Linked DNA regions of Homo sapiens: region 2 is linked to region 1. A link means that fine-mapping ties the variant in region 1 to the expression of a gene that starts in the linked region. Tissue or cell type: monocytes after Pam3CSK4. Region 1 holds a variant in brackets; the other region holds the start of a gene. All regions are shown on one strand. Distances are between the middles of the regions.

Region 1 (8,177 bases):
AGGGTTTCACCATGTTGCCCAGGCTGGTCTTTAACTCCTGGCCTCAGGTGATCCACCCCCTTTTATCTCCCAAAGTACTGGGAATACAGGTGTGAGCCACCACACCCAGCCTGGTTAGCCACATTTTAAGTGCTCAGTAGCCTTATGGAGACAGGTGTTACTGTACTGGATAGTGCAGGCCTCGGGTTTTTGGCATCTCTAACTATCACTCCTCAATACTCTTCACTTCGTACAGGAACAAAAGGTTCCCATAAAATGTTCCTTAGACATATGAAACATTGACACCATGGAATACTATGTAGCCAAACACCAAAAAACCAAGGACACTCTTTTATGGACCCATAGAAAGAGCGCCAAGACATATCATAAAGTGAAAAAGGCAAGATACAAACAGGGTATATGGAATTCTACCACTGCAGGAAATACGCATATTTGGCGGTACATGCACCGACTATCTGTAGGATTCTTAAGAAACTGAGAACATTGGCAGGGGAAACTGGATGGATGGAGGGCAGGTTGGGAGGAAGACTTTTCATAGCATGTAGTTTACACTTTTTGAATTGTGAATATGTGGATGTATCACTCAAAAATTAAAATCAGAACTTCAGTTAATGGGCACACCTTGGCATGTGTAGCCTGCCCAGGCACCTCTGTTCCTGCTCGGTGCTTGCCCTGGCTCCCCAGCAGTGCCCCAGGAGGAGCAGGCACAGGTCAGGTCGCTGTTGTGCCTGCTGTTCCACAGTAGGAAGAGGGAGGCTTGGCAGAGGCCCAGACAGGAAGACATGATATCAAGTGACTCTAAAGGGCCCTTTTGTTTCCGGAAAGGCAGCAGTTTCCACACAGCATCCCTGCCCCCACTGACAGCCCACTGGCCCTGGGATCCCTTTGCCACCTGCTGCAAGAGCATCATTTCTCCCCCGGAAGAGCCTCTGGGCCTGAGGTGGGGAGGAGAGGGGAGCACTGGCTGGGAAGGGGCATCATTCTAGCTTCCCAAAGGATGTCAGTTGTTCCCAGAATGTCATTTCCAGAGGCATGATGCCACCCTGCCAGCTGTCCTCCAAATTTTGGCATCCCCAGCCTGCCTGTGGCAGAGCAATCTCACTAAGAAAATAGAGCACGAGCACGTGTGCATGTGTGTGTCCCCCTGTGAGCATCTGCGGCCCGTGCACTGGCATGCATTCACTCCATTCATTAACTCCTTCGGAAGACGTTCACTGAGCACCTACTATATTCCAGTCACTGTGCTACGCCCTTGGGATACAGCCAGGAGCAAGACGGTAGAGGTCCTGCCCTCATAGAGCTTATAGTCCAGCAGGATAAATTGACATTAAATTTTAAATAATTCAGTCCCACCCGTAGGGATAAGTGGAAGGAAAAGTACATGCAATTGGGGCACACGATCTAGTGTAAGAGGCCAGGGAAGGTGGAGCAAAGGAACTGGCGTTTGAGACTAAGAAATGTATCAATCGGCCGAGTGCAGTGGCTCACACCTGTAATCCCAGCACTTTGGGAGGCCCAGGCCGGTGGATCACCTGAGGTCAGGAGTTCGAGGCCAGCCTGGCCAGCATGGTGAAACCCTGTCCCTACTAAAAATATGAAAATTAGCCAGGCGTGGTGGCATGCGCCTGTAATCCCAGCTACTCAGGAGGCTGAGGCAGAAGAATCACTTGAGCCCAGGAGGCGGAGGTTGCAGTGAACCGAGATCACGCCACTGCACTCCGGCCTGAGCAACAAGAGCAAACCTCCATCTCAAAAAAAAAAAAAGAAATATATCAATCTAGAGATGGTAAGAAGTGACAAGTGGGCCTTCCACAGACAAGGAACCTGCTCCATGTCCTTGAATAAACCACACCCCCTTAACATTGTTTTATTTGGAAATACATTTTACATTTCAAAAAATTACAAAAATAAAAATAGTACAAAGAACACCTGTATATTTTTTACCCAGATGATTCACTGTTGCTCCCATTTTACCCCATTTGCTTTATCCATCGTGTGTGCCTGCATGCACTCTCCCACTCCACACACATACAGAATTCTTTTCTGAAGAATTTGAGGGTACATTTCACACAGCATAGCCCTTTAGTGCTAAATACTCAGAATCAGATGCCCTTTCCAAGCTCAGTTTGCTCAGTTAGAGCACAAAAAGGATAAGCCCTGTCCTCTCCACCTACCAGGGCAGCTGCAAAGAGCACATGAGATCCTGCACAAGCAAACTCTTGGACACACAGCAAAACTATTATCTTTTTTGGAAGCACTTCTTGGAATTTGGAAATGAAAGGTGATTTCCCAGAGAAATGCCCAGGTTCTCAGTTCCTCCAGGAGACAGCATGTTCTTCAGCCAGGCCTGGTGTGTGTGTGTGTGTGTGTGTGTGGTGTGTGTGTGTAGGTCAGCAGCGTTCCCCTGCAGCCCCTCCTCTCCATCAGGCAGCCAGGGCAGACTTGAGCTCTGGTGAGCACCTTTCTGGCTGATGAGCTCCCCTGGCTCCAGGGAAGCCTTGGGAGGGCAACCGTGGCTTGAAAACAATGCTCATCCGCCCCTGGGAAGGGCTCCTTCTCCTTGATGAAATGGAACCGAGCCAGCACGGAAACCCAGACCTGCATTCAGGGAGCCCACAAATACTCACAGAGCACAATAAACAAGTGTTGGTCCTCTCAGCACGTTTTGGGACCCATCTCCTTAATGAGAACAATAAATTCACACGAGGAAAGGTGGTCGCCAAGCAAAAGCGACTGACACACTCCCCCGGCTTCCTTGGCCCCGGGGGACTACCCCCTCTGAGCGTGGGACCTGCAGAATCAATAACTGGAAGGGACAAGGGCCAGACCTACGGAGTCAGAACTTCTGGGCTCAGAGCCTAGGAATGTGTATTTTTAAAGGCTTCCTGGAGGACAATCAGGTTTAGCAACCACTGGCCTAAAAACCCTGTGAGATCACTCCTAGCGCTGAAATACTCTGGTCCTGTGAATAGGAAAATGGATCTAAAGGTAGAAGATACACAGACACAGTTAAATAGGGGTGCATTCATCCCTGGACCCCAAAAAGGCACTTGATCATAGTTTCCGCAGAGCTGAAATCTTAAGCCCTTTGCTGGCAGCCTGTGAATCCTGGAAGGGAAACGTGTACAGCCAAGCCTCAGCATGGGTGCAAGGATGTCTTCCAGCTCCTCTCCCTCCTTAGTTTGTCAAAACCATCCCTGATGTACAGATTCTGTCCCCAGACTGCAAGTTCTCCCTGGGTTGGGGAGAAGAGGTGGAGGAGAATCAGGGAGGCAGCCACAGTCTGCTCTAGCTGCATTGACAAGAACTGGTTGCTGGCTGGTGTGGGCCAGCTCAGAGGAGCACAGCTGTGAGCAAGGCCAGGTGCAGTCGGCCTGAGTGAGCCCAGAGGGGCCAGCTGTCCGGCCCAAGCTAGGGAGCAGTGCTCACTGACCACAGGGCAGTGGGGACTCTGTTCTCTGTGTGGCTGGCTTCTTTTCTTTTTTTTTTTTTCCTCAAGTGACCCACACCCCTCAATGGGTCACTCTGCCTCTCACTGGAGGTTTCTTCTTGAGTTTCTAGGCAAACACTGGGGCTCTGGGGCCCTGCAACCTTATCCCTCCCATCGTTAAACTGTGTGAGAGTTCCAGGGAGCCAAAATCTGGGTGTGCCTCCTCCCCTGCCCCAGCACTCAGCATTGTCCCAGGCAGACAGCAGGCACTAAGGAAATGACGGAGAGAGGGACGCAGGAATGGAAGGGAAAGGAGAAGAAAGAGGAGAGGAAGGGAGGGAGAAAGGAATGAAGGCTGCAATACAGCTGCAGGAAAACCCCGTTCTTATTCGACCCACTGCATCAGATTTCTCCCCAGG[G/T]CCTCTTCCAGGAAAGCTCCTTTGGTGAAACCCGGTTCATAACTACTTCCCCTCCCTCTCACCATCACGCTAGGACTTCTCTTGTGAGGGAAGAGTGTGACTAAACTAAAAGCGTGAACTAAATGGACTTTACAAATGGTTTTCCAGACGTCAGAAGCCACCCACCTTGCACACAGAAGGAATAACTGACAGATTGAAAGAACTGGCATCTCTGAATGTCCAAATCTGTCCTATTCTTCAAGATCCAGAGGCAAGAGCTACCACCTCAGTGAAGTCTTCCCGGATTTCTCTAACAGGAGGTGATCTCTCCTCCTCTAAAACTACACAACACGCTATCCATCCTTCTTTGACTGATAAGCTGCAGTTTTTCTGCCTTATGATACAGCCATTTTGTGAACATGAAAAGGGCGACACCAAGGAAATAGCAAAAGCTTGGCAGTCAGACTTTCCCAAGGTTAAATCCCACCTCTCCCTCTTGCCAGCTGTGTGAGTGTGGAGGAGTTGCTTATCCTCAGTTTCTTCGTGTATCAAATCAGGATAATAACCACATGGCAAGTTTGTTGTAGGGATTACAATGGGATAGAGATTAGTGGGGTTCACATCATTCCCATATTTCCTTTCCCATCCCAGGGAAGAATTACACTTCTCTGTCCCGCTTGAAGTTAGGTATGTCCATGTGACATCCTCTGGCCAATGACATGTGAGCAGAAGTCACGAGTGTCCCCTCCGGGCAGAAGCGTTTCAGAGTTGGTGCACATTTCCTGTGCTCTCTTCCCTGGCCGCAGCAACAGCCAGGAAAGAGAACAGCTCCCGTGTTGAGAAGGTGGCATCGTCAGATGGTACAGCACCCTTCGGATTGGCAGCCATCAGCACATCCCTCTGCCGAAGAGCTGTCCAGAGGATGTAACATCAGTGAGAGACAAATGCCTGTTGCCTCCAGCCACTGAGATTCTGAGGTTGTTTGTTACCACAGCATTACCTAACCTATTCTAATACAAGACAAGATGTATGCGGGACCCTTAGCATGGCTCCGATACATAGTAAGTACTTGATAAATATGCCATGACTGAAGAAATAGTCAAACAAATCTGTGAACAAATGAATAGACTAGTAAATATGTCCAAACTGGAGCTGTGCTCCCTCAGGAAGGTCTGGACAAGTCTCCTGGCACCTTCGAGGTGAATGTAAATGCCTTATTCATGTGCCACTGGTGGCCATGTTACACCTGAACAGTAGGGATGGCTGTCCTTTATGACTTTTCTCCCTGCTTATCCAGGAATGCAATGTCACCCATGCAAGCCCCACACTTCTCCCTGGACTCCACCTCTCCCTGCCACCTGTAACTGAGGATTCCGGGAGTTGGGGCTCTCGGTTCTGGTGTGTTTGCCATCAGGAGAGTCACACTCCCAGCAAAGTGATGCTGGAGGATCCCTTGAGCCTCCCCACCACCCACCGCCCACAAGGCACGGTCCAGAGAGAAGGGGCTGGGGAGCGGGAATCAGAGGCAACTAGTTGCTGTTCTTCTCCAGTCCTGGAAACTGAGGGGCCTTCACAGGAAGCTACTTCACACAACTCAGACCCATCCAGTTGAAAATAGACAGGCCTCAGCCCAGAAGGGAGCTGAAAACGGCCATGAGCAACCCCTGTAGAGTGCACAGGGGTTTGTAGCTTTACCATGTATTGTTTTCATATCCAGTGCCTGCTGTGGTCCCAACAGCAACTCGATGAAGTTGCCTGGATTGGAATCATGATTGCCCCATTTTACAAAAAAAAGAAACTAAGGCTGGGATAGGGAGATGAATTCTTCAAGACACTCCGTAGTGTCTAGAGGAGCTGGACTCAGTCATTGCTATCAGGAGCTGGCCTGAGTCTTCCCTCTGCCCACCGAAGGAGGGGCTGACAGCCCTTTTTTTATTTTTTCACATCAAGGACATCCTTTTTCTTCTGGCAGATACCTACTGCTTGATGAAGCAGGCGTATGGTGTGTTCACCAACAATCTTTAAAGACTGCTCCCCATAACTATAAAAGCAATAAAAAGGAGAGAGAGGGAGGAAGGAGAGAAACCAACACATCACCCAGGGGAAGAAGGGAGAGAGAAAAGCCTTCTTCTGAAGGACTAAGGTCCTGGCCCCACTGCAATGCGGGGTGTGTGCATCAGAGGTAGCCAGCAGCAAGGCACCGGGCATGTGATCAGAGTCACTGCTGAGTGGACCTGAGGCCAGAGCTGGGAACTAGCAAGGGCCAAGTCCAAAAGCAAAGGCGAAATGGAGCTGGGAGAGTAAGCGCCAGGTCAGGTGGTGGGGAGGAGGATGCTGAGGACAGGTCCGGAAAGCCTGGGGGTGCCGGAGTCCCCATTCTGTGGTGTTTTTGCAGGTTTGAGGACAGGTGTGGTGGCCACAGGGGACCTGCAGGGCGAGGTGTAGTTTCCTCTTCTGGCCGATGAAGTGGTTGACCCTGGGTTTCTCTGCTTGCCCCCAGCTCTGACGTTGAGATGGTTTTTCATGAACCGAAAGCTTTTCGATTCTCAATCTCTAGACCACTGAGAGCTGTGTCACATCCAGACTCAGAGCTAACCAGCAAGCACAGGAGATACCACTGCGCTCTCCCCTTCATACCTCACGACCCAACCAGGAGAGCAGTTCATGCCTGCCGTACCGATGGGGAAACTGAGGCTTTAAGAGGCGAAGGTACTTCCCTAAGTACCACAACTAGGAAGTGGAGAAATTTGAATGCACTCCTAGCTGACTGCAAACTTCAGGTTATTTCTACTGCATGAAGCTGCTTCCTAAGTTCAGAGTAAAGATCCACCCAGGGTCACAGTCCCCTGGGGCCATTTTTCAGAAAGTTGGCCACCTACATCAATGAACTAAAAAGGAGCAGTGATAAGGCTCCATCTCTTTCCTTTCCTTTGCCCAAAGAGAATGAGCACTCATACCAACAGCAGTAGTGCAGAAAGCCATTTGCCCCCGTGTCCTTTACAGAGACAAACAGATAACCCTTATTTGCAAGCTGGGTAAAATATTAACTCAGCACCCAAGGGCGCTGTCCAATACAAGCAAGACAAAGTCCTTGGCTTTAGTTTGGGAGCTCAGAACTAAGCATCCACCCTCAGGCTGTCCTCCCACACCCCCAGGTGCAGGGTCCCCTTCCCTCACCATTACAGCATTGCAAGAAGGCAGCACAATGCCTCCGCAGCCTGGAGAAGCAAGGGAGAGCACAGTCCTCACATCCAACTAAAGGTTCCCTAAGGTGCAGGGCTGTGTTTGCACCCTCTGCCTGCTCAGACAGCCATTCCAGGAAGTGATTTTGCTTCTGCATGTACTCCTATGGGTGCCACCCACCCTCACTTTTGGTCTCACCCACTGTGACCCGGCAGAGACTCCACATCATGATGGCTTTCAAGAGGTACAGCTCCCACTCTCCTGGCTGGCTCAGGAAGGGAGTGGCCTCTCCCAGATGTACCAAAGTGCCTTTTCTCTGGGCCCTCAGTGGCATCTCCACTGCTGTTGTCTGCCCATTGGCTGAGCACCACATGCTCCAAGCCTGTGTCCACCACTGCTGTGGACACGCTCAGGCAGCCAGAGGGGAGCAGGCAGTGACAGATCTCAGATGGTGCTGGACGAGGGCTCTGGCCATCTCTTATTTTCTCAGTCCCTATAGGGGCCAACTCGCCTTCCCAACTGGTTGAAAAAAAAAATGACCTACCTGGAAATCAACTTCCCCTCCTTAACTCGAAGTGATGTTAAAATCTTAGGAAGTAGGACATTGCTGCTGGCAGTAAACCTCCCCCACCAGAGCACATGAAGAATAAAAACAAACAAACAAACAAAAGTCTTAGGTGGTTGGCAGTGTAAGCACAGCAGTGACTTTTGGACGGACGGCTCCAACCACAGGACTGAAACCTAAAATGACCCAGGCAATCAGCCCCAAATAAACGAAGCAGGCAGCAAAGACCTCTCAGGTCTGTACTTACTAGTCACGTTATGAGGCCACCTGGAAATAGTAGCCACCCCAATCCCTCCACCCCATACCTCAGAGCCTTTGTTTATGTTGTTCTCTGTCTAGAAGGACCTTCTCTACCTCATTCATTCCTACATAAGCTCAGTGCCACCACCTCAGTGAAGCCTCCCTTAACCTACACAGCCCTGAACTTCACAATCACAGTTACTTGTTTTTTTCTCTAATCATCCCCTAATTTAAGCGTGGCTATTGGACAGCACTTGCCATGTTTTACTATACTTAGCTCTTTTAAACATCAGATTTCTAGAATAGTTCAAATTATTTCTAAGGAGAGAATATATTTTGCAAACCCCAAACCTGTCTTGTA
Region 2 (8,177 bases), 36 kb after region 1:
TGTCTTTTCTATCCTGGGCTTTATTTTTCTCACGGTCCCTGAAAGGGCTGTGATCAGGTGATATGTGTGGGACTGCTCCCTGTACAGGTGCAGAGCAGGTACCGAGGGGAGGAGAAAATCCACCGTGTGTGTACTTACTCAAAGCTCGTTCAATAGCCCTCCCAGGATAGCTCTTGGCAGGGCAGCTACCACGTCTCTGGCAGGCTGGAGGGAATCTGAGTGTGAGAAAGTCAGTCATGCGGAGGAAAAGGGAAAAAAAAAAGCTTCAAGTCCTCAGGCAAAATACCTTTTTTCTTCTTCTCTTGCTCTCTCCTTTCTGTAGCTTTAAACCAAACCCACAAACCACTCTGATACCTAGGGGACAAAGGGGAGTTTCACTAGAGATGCAGTTATTTGTTTTATGGTTTGAAAGCAAACAGGTGATGCGGTAAGACAGAGAAGTCGCCCTTCCGGGGCGGGGGTGGGGGGACGCTGTGGGTGGAGACAAGTGCGGGAGCCCCTGGTTGTATGTATTGGGCATGACACGGTGAGAACGATTCAGAACGATGCTGGTGTCACAGGGGGATCAAAGAAGTGACCTCCACTGATGAACTGGGCTCCATTTTCTCTTTGCTTTGGGAGTCGGGGGAAAAGGATGACTGAAAAATAAAGGCTGTTTCTATCTATCTAAGAGCATTCTTCCAGATGCAGATGCTTCTTCCTGAGTTTAGGAGCTTACTGTCCCATTTGAGAAGGGGTGGGGAGAGGACAACGTTGGTCCTATTTTCACTGCCTAGCATAAGGAAACTGAAAAGTCATCTGTGAGCCCATCTGCAAGAAACTCTTCTTGAATGGTTAGAGTGGAAAGCCAGAGAGTTCCTGGAATTTATTTTTATTTATTATTTATTTATTTTTGGTCCAGACACAAATTCATAATTTTTTTTGTTACTTGAGCCTCTGTCCCCCTATCTAAAAACGTGTGTGTGAAAGTTACTTGCCCATTCCACCAGTCCAAGCACTCCCAAAGTGGCAATAAACGAGTTGCTGATTAACTATTTGACCCACGAGGCTGCTTTAGCCCCTTCAGTGAGACCCTAACTTGACCATATTCCATTCCCCATGCACCTTCAGGGCACCAAATAAGAGTGGGGAACAGAATCAGATGAAAAAGTCTCTTAGAATGGGCAGGGAGTGGCATAACCCAGTAGTTAATGAGGGCCGACCAGCAGACAGCAGTCAATGTCATGGCAGAGCCTGGCAGAGCCTAGCAGAGCAGGCACTGGTTCTGAAAGATTTGGGGGGAACCTGGAAAGGGTTAACATGCTTCCCCGGGAAGGGTTTAGTTCCTCAGAAGAATCTGGGTCAGTGTATTTGGGAAGTTTTTAAAAAGTCAGACGCTCAGTAGAAGCATTTTAAGAAGCTTGCAAAGCTTATTGGGGCCATGGCAGAAAGGAGGGTAACTTCATAGGCTCATCACCTTTCACCAAGAGGATTTTCACCACACAGGAAAACCCTACGTTTTCCAAAAGCAACAGACAATTTTCTGTCATCACCACTTTTCCATCTGTTTAAAATAAGAAAGAAAATTCCTTCCCCTTTGGCCCAGGTTGCAGGTCAACAAAGGAGGCATTGTTCATCATTTCTTCAGAACATGACAGGGCACAGCTCACTCTGCAGTGTAAGAAAACATTTTTTAAAAAAAATCTCAGAGTAGCCTTAGGGGCAACAGTGAGTAAACCAAAGCCTTCGATGAGGGAAATGTTTGGTTGCAGACTGGAGGACTATCCTGGAAGGTGGAAATGAGGCTTAGGTTAATACGGTCAGAGCCATGATTCCTTAGTTAGACTCAGGAATTAAATCTGAGTTCCTGAGTTCCTGGTTGGGGGTTGGGAACACTGCATTAAAGGGTAGGCAGGTTTGAGTTGAACTCAGTTCCCAAGAGCGTGCGGTCAATGTCCAGAGGAGCTGGATGTAGACAGATGCCTCTGGGAGTCAGTCTGCACCTGCCTCCTAGGAACCTTCTTCACTGGCTTGAACTGCCTAACTGCCCTTTCTGCCTCCAAGCCCTGCAATCCACTCTCCCACTTTTGCCAGAGCCATCTTTCTAAAGGGAAACCCTGATGCCTCTTCTTTGCTCAAGAATGTTTCATGGCTCTCCACTGTCTAAAGATAAGGTCCAAAGTCCTTCAGCAAGATGTTTAAGGAGCTTGTGACATGGCCTCAAGCTGCCTCTTCCAGTCCCTCACATTCCCTAGGCTCCAGACCATGTTCCCTGAATAAAGTCTTCAAGTTCCAGGATCTTGGCCTTTAATACCATGGGTACCTGCATCCTCTCCAGCCCACGACTAAGCACATTCCCAATGCCCCAATCCTACCTATTTTTCAAGGTACACAGGCCAATCCCTCCAGGAAGTTTTCCAAGGTACCCCAACTTAAAAGTAACTTAATTCTCCTGAAACTCCATAGCATTTTACCTCTATCCAGACATACGTCTCTCTTGAACCTACGACTTCCCAGAGGAATTTACTGGGCCATCCGTAGATGTCAGCTGTACACGTTTATATGTATCTCTAGACTGTTAGCTTCCAGAGAGCAATAACGGTCTTACTCACTGCTGTAAACCCAGGTAGACCAGCAATACTGTTATCCATACAAGTATGGTTTCATATTTTGTTTCTGTCCTCCTGATCTCTCAAGCCACCACCTAACTCAGAAAAGAAAGGAAAAATAAAGGAATGTCCAGTCATCAATCAGAAAATCAGCGTCTGTCTGCCCCCGCAGTTTACTGTCAACTTCTAGCAGGCCGCCACTGTATCTCTCACCGTGGAAATCCCAGGGTTTAACACAGTGTCTGACACTGCGCGTGTGTTCCACAATGAAAGAGAGAGGGGGGCTTGCCCAAGGTCACCCAGAGTCAGGAACCACTGAATCTCATCCGGGACGAGATCTGGCGAAATCATTGACAACGTTATCTCAGTGGGGAGCTGGGAGGCCGGAAGGAATGAAGTGTCTGAGAACCGTGCGCCAGGCCTCCGGGACGCGGGAAGGGCTGAGGGGGCGGGAGGCCACATCAAACAAGACGCTGGGCTCCCGGGCTGCCCGGAGCCGCGAGCCGAGCTCCCAGGCGGCGGGAAGGGCGGAGGGGGGGTGGGGGCACGGGGGCCGGCGACCCGGGCAGGCGGGAGGGAGGCGGAGGAGGCGGCCGGCCGGCCCAGGCAGTGCGCGCCGCCCGCCCGGCTCGGCAAATCCCCCAGGGAGGCCGCCGCCAGAGCCCTGGCGCTCCCGGCCCGGCGCCCGCCACGTGGCACCCGGCGGCGGCGGCGGCGACTCCTCCCGGCGCGCGGCCCGGCCAGCAGGCAGCACGCAGCCGCCCGCGCCGCCCGCCTCCTCCCGGGCGCCCGCCGGCGGCCTCCCGGGCGTAGTGAGGGGGAGCGGCCCGGCCGCCCGGGACCCGGGGAAGGGGCGGGCGGCGCGAAGCCGCTTTAACCGCAGTCGCCGAGCGGAGGCAGGAGGCTGACCCGGCCGCTTCCTAAGTGCGGTCAGGCATCCCGTGACCGCGGCGGGCGCCCAGGGCCCCGCGGGGAGAGGGCGGGGGCGAGGAGCAAACTTGGAGGCCCCCACCTCGCCCCCGGGCTGTTGCGAATGCGGCTTTCGGCCGAGTGAAAACCCCAAGCCCGAAAGTGAGGGTGGGGAGGCGGGGGTTGGAAGAATTCCCCACTCTCCACCCCGGGTGTGCGCTCCCCGCCGGGAAGAGCTGACCTTGGCCTGGGGAGGCGGGGGTGGGGAGAGAGGGTAAGCGCCGGGGCTCGGCTCCCAGCCCGCCGCCCCCTCGGATTCCTGGCCCGGCGGGGCCGGAGGAGGGGGCCCCGGACACACACACACACACACCCCCCACACGCAGCGCGCGCCAATGAGCCCGGGCCAGGCGCAGGGGGCGGGGTTTTCCCAGGCTCGAGCACAGCAGCTGCTATTTACCTTCTTGGCTTCTCCCGGGGACCAGGAACCGGCCCCCGCTCTCCGCCGCCCGTCGCCGCCCCCCGCCTCCCTGCCCCCGGGGCGCGCGCACACACACTCACTCACACACGCACGCACACACACATCCTCCCGGCCCGGCCGCAGCCGCGGCGGCAATAAAACATCCTGGCACGTGCTCCGGCTCCAGGCGCGCCCACGCCGGCCGGCTGATGTCAAACTGCAGCTCGGCTGGTGTAGCTCTTAAAGGGCCCGCGGGCGCCGGGGGCCGAGGCCGCCCGCGGGGCGAGGAGGGAGAGGCTGCTTCCTTGCCCGCCACCTCAACGCGCCGCAGAACCTAAAGCCTACGGATGAAAAGGGAAAGGGTGGTGAAGGAGGGCGCGAGTCCCTGAGTCATTGCCCTCGGAGCCCCCCTTGTTCATTTTTTCATTTGAAATACCGTTTCCTTCCACCCAGTTGGAAATTATTCTGATTGTTTCCTGGGGAAGCCCGGGGTCTAAGGCCCCAAATCCAAACGAGGAATTTCTGAAAGACGGGGTGGGGGTGGGATTCAAGAACTACCTTGCTCCGAAAAACCTGCATTTGTGAGGTAGAAGGCAATTTTTCCTTTTTCTGCATGGAAACAGGAAAATTTTTTTGGCCCTTTTCCTTTACCATCTACTTTCACCCTCCTGAATGTAAAGTCTGAGCGGGAACTTTAGATGTGTCGGTAACTCACATTCTTACACCCGTCCCCCCCTCCCCCCGCCCCCTTTTAACCACTGCTGTTTTTTTCTTTATTGTTTATACCTTTAAAAAAAATATGTTTCAAATGAACTTACTACAGTCAAAGCAGCTCTGTTACATATGAGAGAGGGCATAAAGAGCAAAGACCCTGGCTCCAAAAGAAATAGACAAGATCAAGACCAAAGCGGAAAGAAAAAAAAAATCTCTAAACCAAAGCCCAGAGGGAGAGTAGCAAAGGGTTAAAATCCTTTTGATTGACGTTGTAGCCTCCGGTGCCCTGGGCTCAGGCGCGCGCCATTGGCCGCCAGACCTTGTGCCTGGCGGCCAATGGGGGGGCGCGGTCCACGAGCGGTGCCGCGTGTCTCCTCCTCCCATTGGCTGAAAGTTACTGTGGGAAAGAAAGTTTGGGAAGTTTCACACGAGCCGTTCGCGTGCAGTCCCAGATATATATAGAGGCCGCCAGGGCCTAGGGATCACACAGGATCCGGAGCTGGTGCTGATAACAGCGGAATCCCCCGTCTACCTCTCTCCTTGGTCCTGGAACAGCGCTACTGATCACCAAGTAGCCACAAAATATAATAAACCCTCAGCACTTGCTCAGTAGTTTTGTGAAAGTCTCAAGTAAAAGAGACACAAACAAAAAATTCTTTTTCGTGAAGAACTCCAAAAATAAAATTCTCTAGAGATAAAAAAAAAAAAAAAAGGAAAATGCCAGCTGATATAATGGAGAAAAATTCCTCGTCCCCGGTGGCTGCTACCCCAGCCAGTGTCAACACGACACCGGATAAACCAAAGACAGCATCTGAGCACAGAAAGGTAAGGGCGGTACCTGTATCTCTTTGCAGCCCCTCAAAATTAAGTAGGGGTTGGGGGGCTTCTTTCTGTCTTGAAACCCCGGGATGGCAGATTCCATGGGAACACAGAACTCTTTTTTTTATTTGCAGTCATCAAAGCCTATTATGGAGAAAAGACGAAGAGCAAGAATAAATGAAAGTCTGAGCCAGCTGAAAACACTGATTTTGGATGCTCTGAAGAAAGATGTAAGTGGGGAAATGCTGCTCGCTCTTTTAATTAAAAAACAAACACTTTCTCAGCTACTAAGAGTGAAACCCCCCGCCCTGCGGGGTCTGGCACTCGCTGGTACTGCGTTCTCCCAGGCGGGAGGGCCCGGCCTTATTCGCTGGGGTCCAGAGATAATGCTTGCGCTCCGTGGCCGGGAGGAGGGACCCCCAGCACTCTGAAGCAGCTGACACGGGGCTCACTTTCCTTTCTTGCCTACTCTATGCAGAGCTCGCGGCATTCCAAGCTGGAGAAGGCGGACATTCTGGAAATGACAGTGAAGCACCTCCGGAACCTGCAGCGGGCGCAGATGACGGGTGAGGGCGGCTCGCCGCGTCCCCCTGTGCGGGCGTCCCGCTCGCCTCGCGGTGATTTCTTCCAGACTTCCGCCCGTGGTTGTGAGAGGCATTCAGCTACATTTTACTGCCTTGGCTCACTCTTGCGTTCCCACGGTCTGGGGCTTATTTATAGCCACAACTCCAAGTTGTTACTGTTCCGGAAAGGGAGGGAAAGAGGTTGCAGCCGCGAGGGTGGCGGGCGCCGGGTAGGGGCGAAAGGACTTAGGACTGTGGCGGTTTGGAACTGCGTGGAGCCTGGGGGTCACTGGTTTAGCACTCCTTCCCGTTGCAGAAGGGGAAATGAGGCTTGGATGATGGATTGGGAGGCATTGTCCAAGGTCACATCGCGCGCGGGGGTGGGGGTGACAGATCTGGGGCTGAGATAGGTTTAAATGCAGCTACAGGGAATCGGGAAGGAGTGGCTCGGCTTTTGGCAGCAACGCTAGTGTGGAGAGGTGGCTGGTTTTTTCTAAACCCATCTCACCCTCCCTGCCGGAGGCAGTTTCACGGGCGCATGGTCAGGGAGGCGCGCCACAGGGACCTCCCAGGGCGGAGGCAGTGGCCACGGGGCCAGGGCCGTTCGGTGACCCGTCTGTCTCTTTCTGGCCCGCAGCTGCGCTGAGCACAGACCCAAGTGTGCTGGGGAAGTACCGAGCCGGCTTCAGCGAGTGCATGAACGAGGTGACCCGCTTCCTGTCCACGTGCGAGGGCGTTAATACCGAGGTGCGCACTCGGCTGCTCGGCCACCTGGCCAACTGCATGACCCAGATCAATGCCATGACCTACCCCGGGCAGCCGCACCCCGCCTTGCAGGCGCCGCCACCGCCCCCACCGGGACCCGGCGGCCCCCAGCACGCGCCGTTCGCGCCGCCGCCGCCACTCGTGCCCATCCCCGGGGGCGCGGCGCCCCCTCCCGGCGGCGCCCCCTGCAAGCTGGGCAGCCAGGCTGGAGAGGCGGCTAAGGTGTTTGGAGGCTTCCAGGTGGTACCGGCTCCCGATGGCCAGTTTGCTTTCCTCATTCCCAACGGGGCCTTCGCGCACAGCGGCCCTGTCATCCCCGTCTACACCAGCAACAGCGGCACCTCCGTGGGCCCCAACGCAGTGTCACCTTCCAGCGGCCCCTCGCTTACGGCGGACTCCATGTGGAGGCCGTGGCGGAACTGAGGGGGCTCAGGCCACCCCTCCTCCTAAACTCCCCAACCCACCTCTCTTCCCTCCGGACTCTAAACAGGAACTTGAATACTGGGAGAGAAGAGGACTTTTTTGATTAAGTGGTTACTTTGTGTTTTTTTAATTTCTAAGAAGTTACTTTTTGTAGAGAGAGCTGTATTAAGTGACTGACCATGCACTATATTTGTATATATTTTATATGTTCATATTGGATTGCGCCTTTGTATTATAAAAGCTCAGATGACATTTCGTTTTTTACACGAGATTTCTTTTTTATGTGATGCCAAAGATGTTTGAAAATGCTCTTAAAATATCTTCCTTTGGGGAAGTTTATTTGAGAAAATATAATAAAAGAAAAAAGTAAAGGCTTTTATGTCTTCGAACTGATTCTTCCAGAATATGTAAAAAGGCTTTTGGTGGAATTTGAATTACATGTAATTGGTAATTCAGGAATTGACTCTTTTGTTATTAAAAGAACATTTGTAAAAATCCATCAAACTTTTCACCAATCCTCCATGAACTAAAAAGACTAAATTCCATTTACTTTACAAGCAGCCATCTGGTAAGGCTTCCCTGATAAACTTGTGGTCAGTCTCTTAAAGGATTTCCAAAAAAAATGTTTTTAAGTTGCAGTCGGGTAAGTCTGCAGCCCTTGTTCTTCTAGCTCCTCCTGAGGAAGATTGAACAGGACTAAATTCACGAAGCTAATGGATCCAATCCTATTGCCCATTGCACGTTAAGGGTGGTTCCTGCAGCTCTCCTCTCAGGGTAGCTCACCAGCATCCAAAGCAAAAACACTTCCAACTGCTGCGCCTCCTTCAAGACTTGGGGTCTTCATTAATTAGCCAATCCTTTGGTTCAAATAAGACGTTCCCTAGCACCCAAAAGTTTCCTCTCCGCACCCTCTTAAAGCAAGCTGAAAAGGTCAACAGA

Direction of the effects. Alleles are on the strand shown, and positions count from the first base shown. SD is a standard deviation of normalised expression in the study named.
For the expression in monocytes after Pam3CSK4 of the gene that starts at base 5,153 in region 2, T is the low allele of the variant in region 1 and G is the other (large effect, 0.90 SD a copy in Quach 2016).

What was found. PIP is the estimated chance that this variant, and not a neighbour inherited with it, causes the effect.
Region 2: HES1 starts here. The variant in region 1 is fine-mapped to the expression of HES1 in monocytes after Pam3CSK4 (Quach 2016, PIP 0.95).

Annotation. Positions count from the first base shown.
Region 1 is chr3:194,094,878-194,103,054 of GRCh38, forward strand. All of the region lies in intron 4 of LOC102724877, which reads left to right. Among named protein-coding and RNA genes, the nearest start is that of LINC02028, 28 kb to the left of the region's middle. RefSeq lists an enhancer at 6,060-6,349. The variant G/T (reference allele first, on the strand shown) is at 3,850.
Region 2 is chr3:194,130,996-194,139,172 of GRCh38, forward strand. It overlaps HES1 (hes family bHLH transcription factor 1), which reads left to right and starts at 5,153. Exons shown (of 4, transcript NM_005524.4): 1 at 5,153-5,493; 2 at 5,622-5,717; 3 at 5,966-6,053; 4 at 6,688-7,737. The coding sequence starts at 5,386. The coding sequence ends at 7,238. RefSeq lists silencers at 3,231-3,510, 3,581-4,120, 6,847-7,046 and enhancers at 5,111-6,310, 5,120-5,279, 7,077-7,266.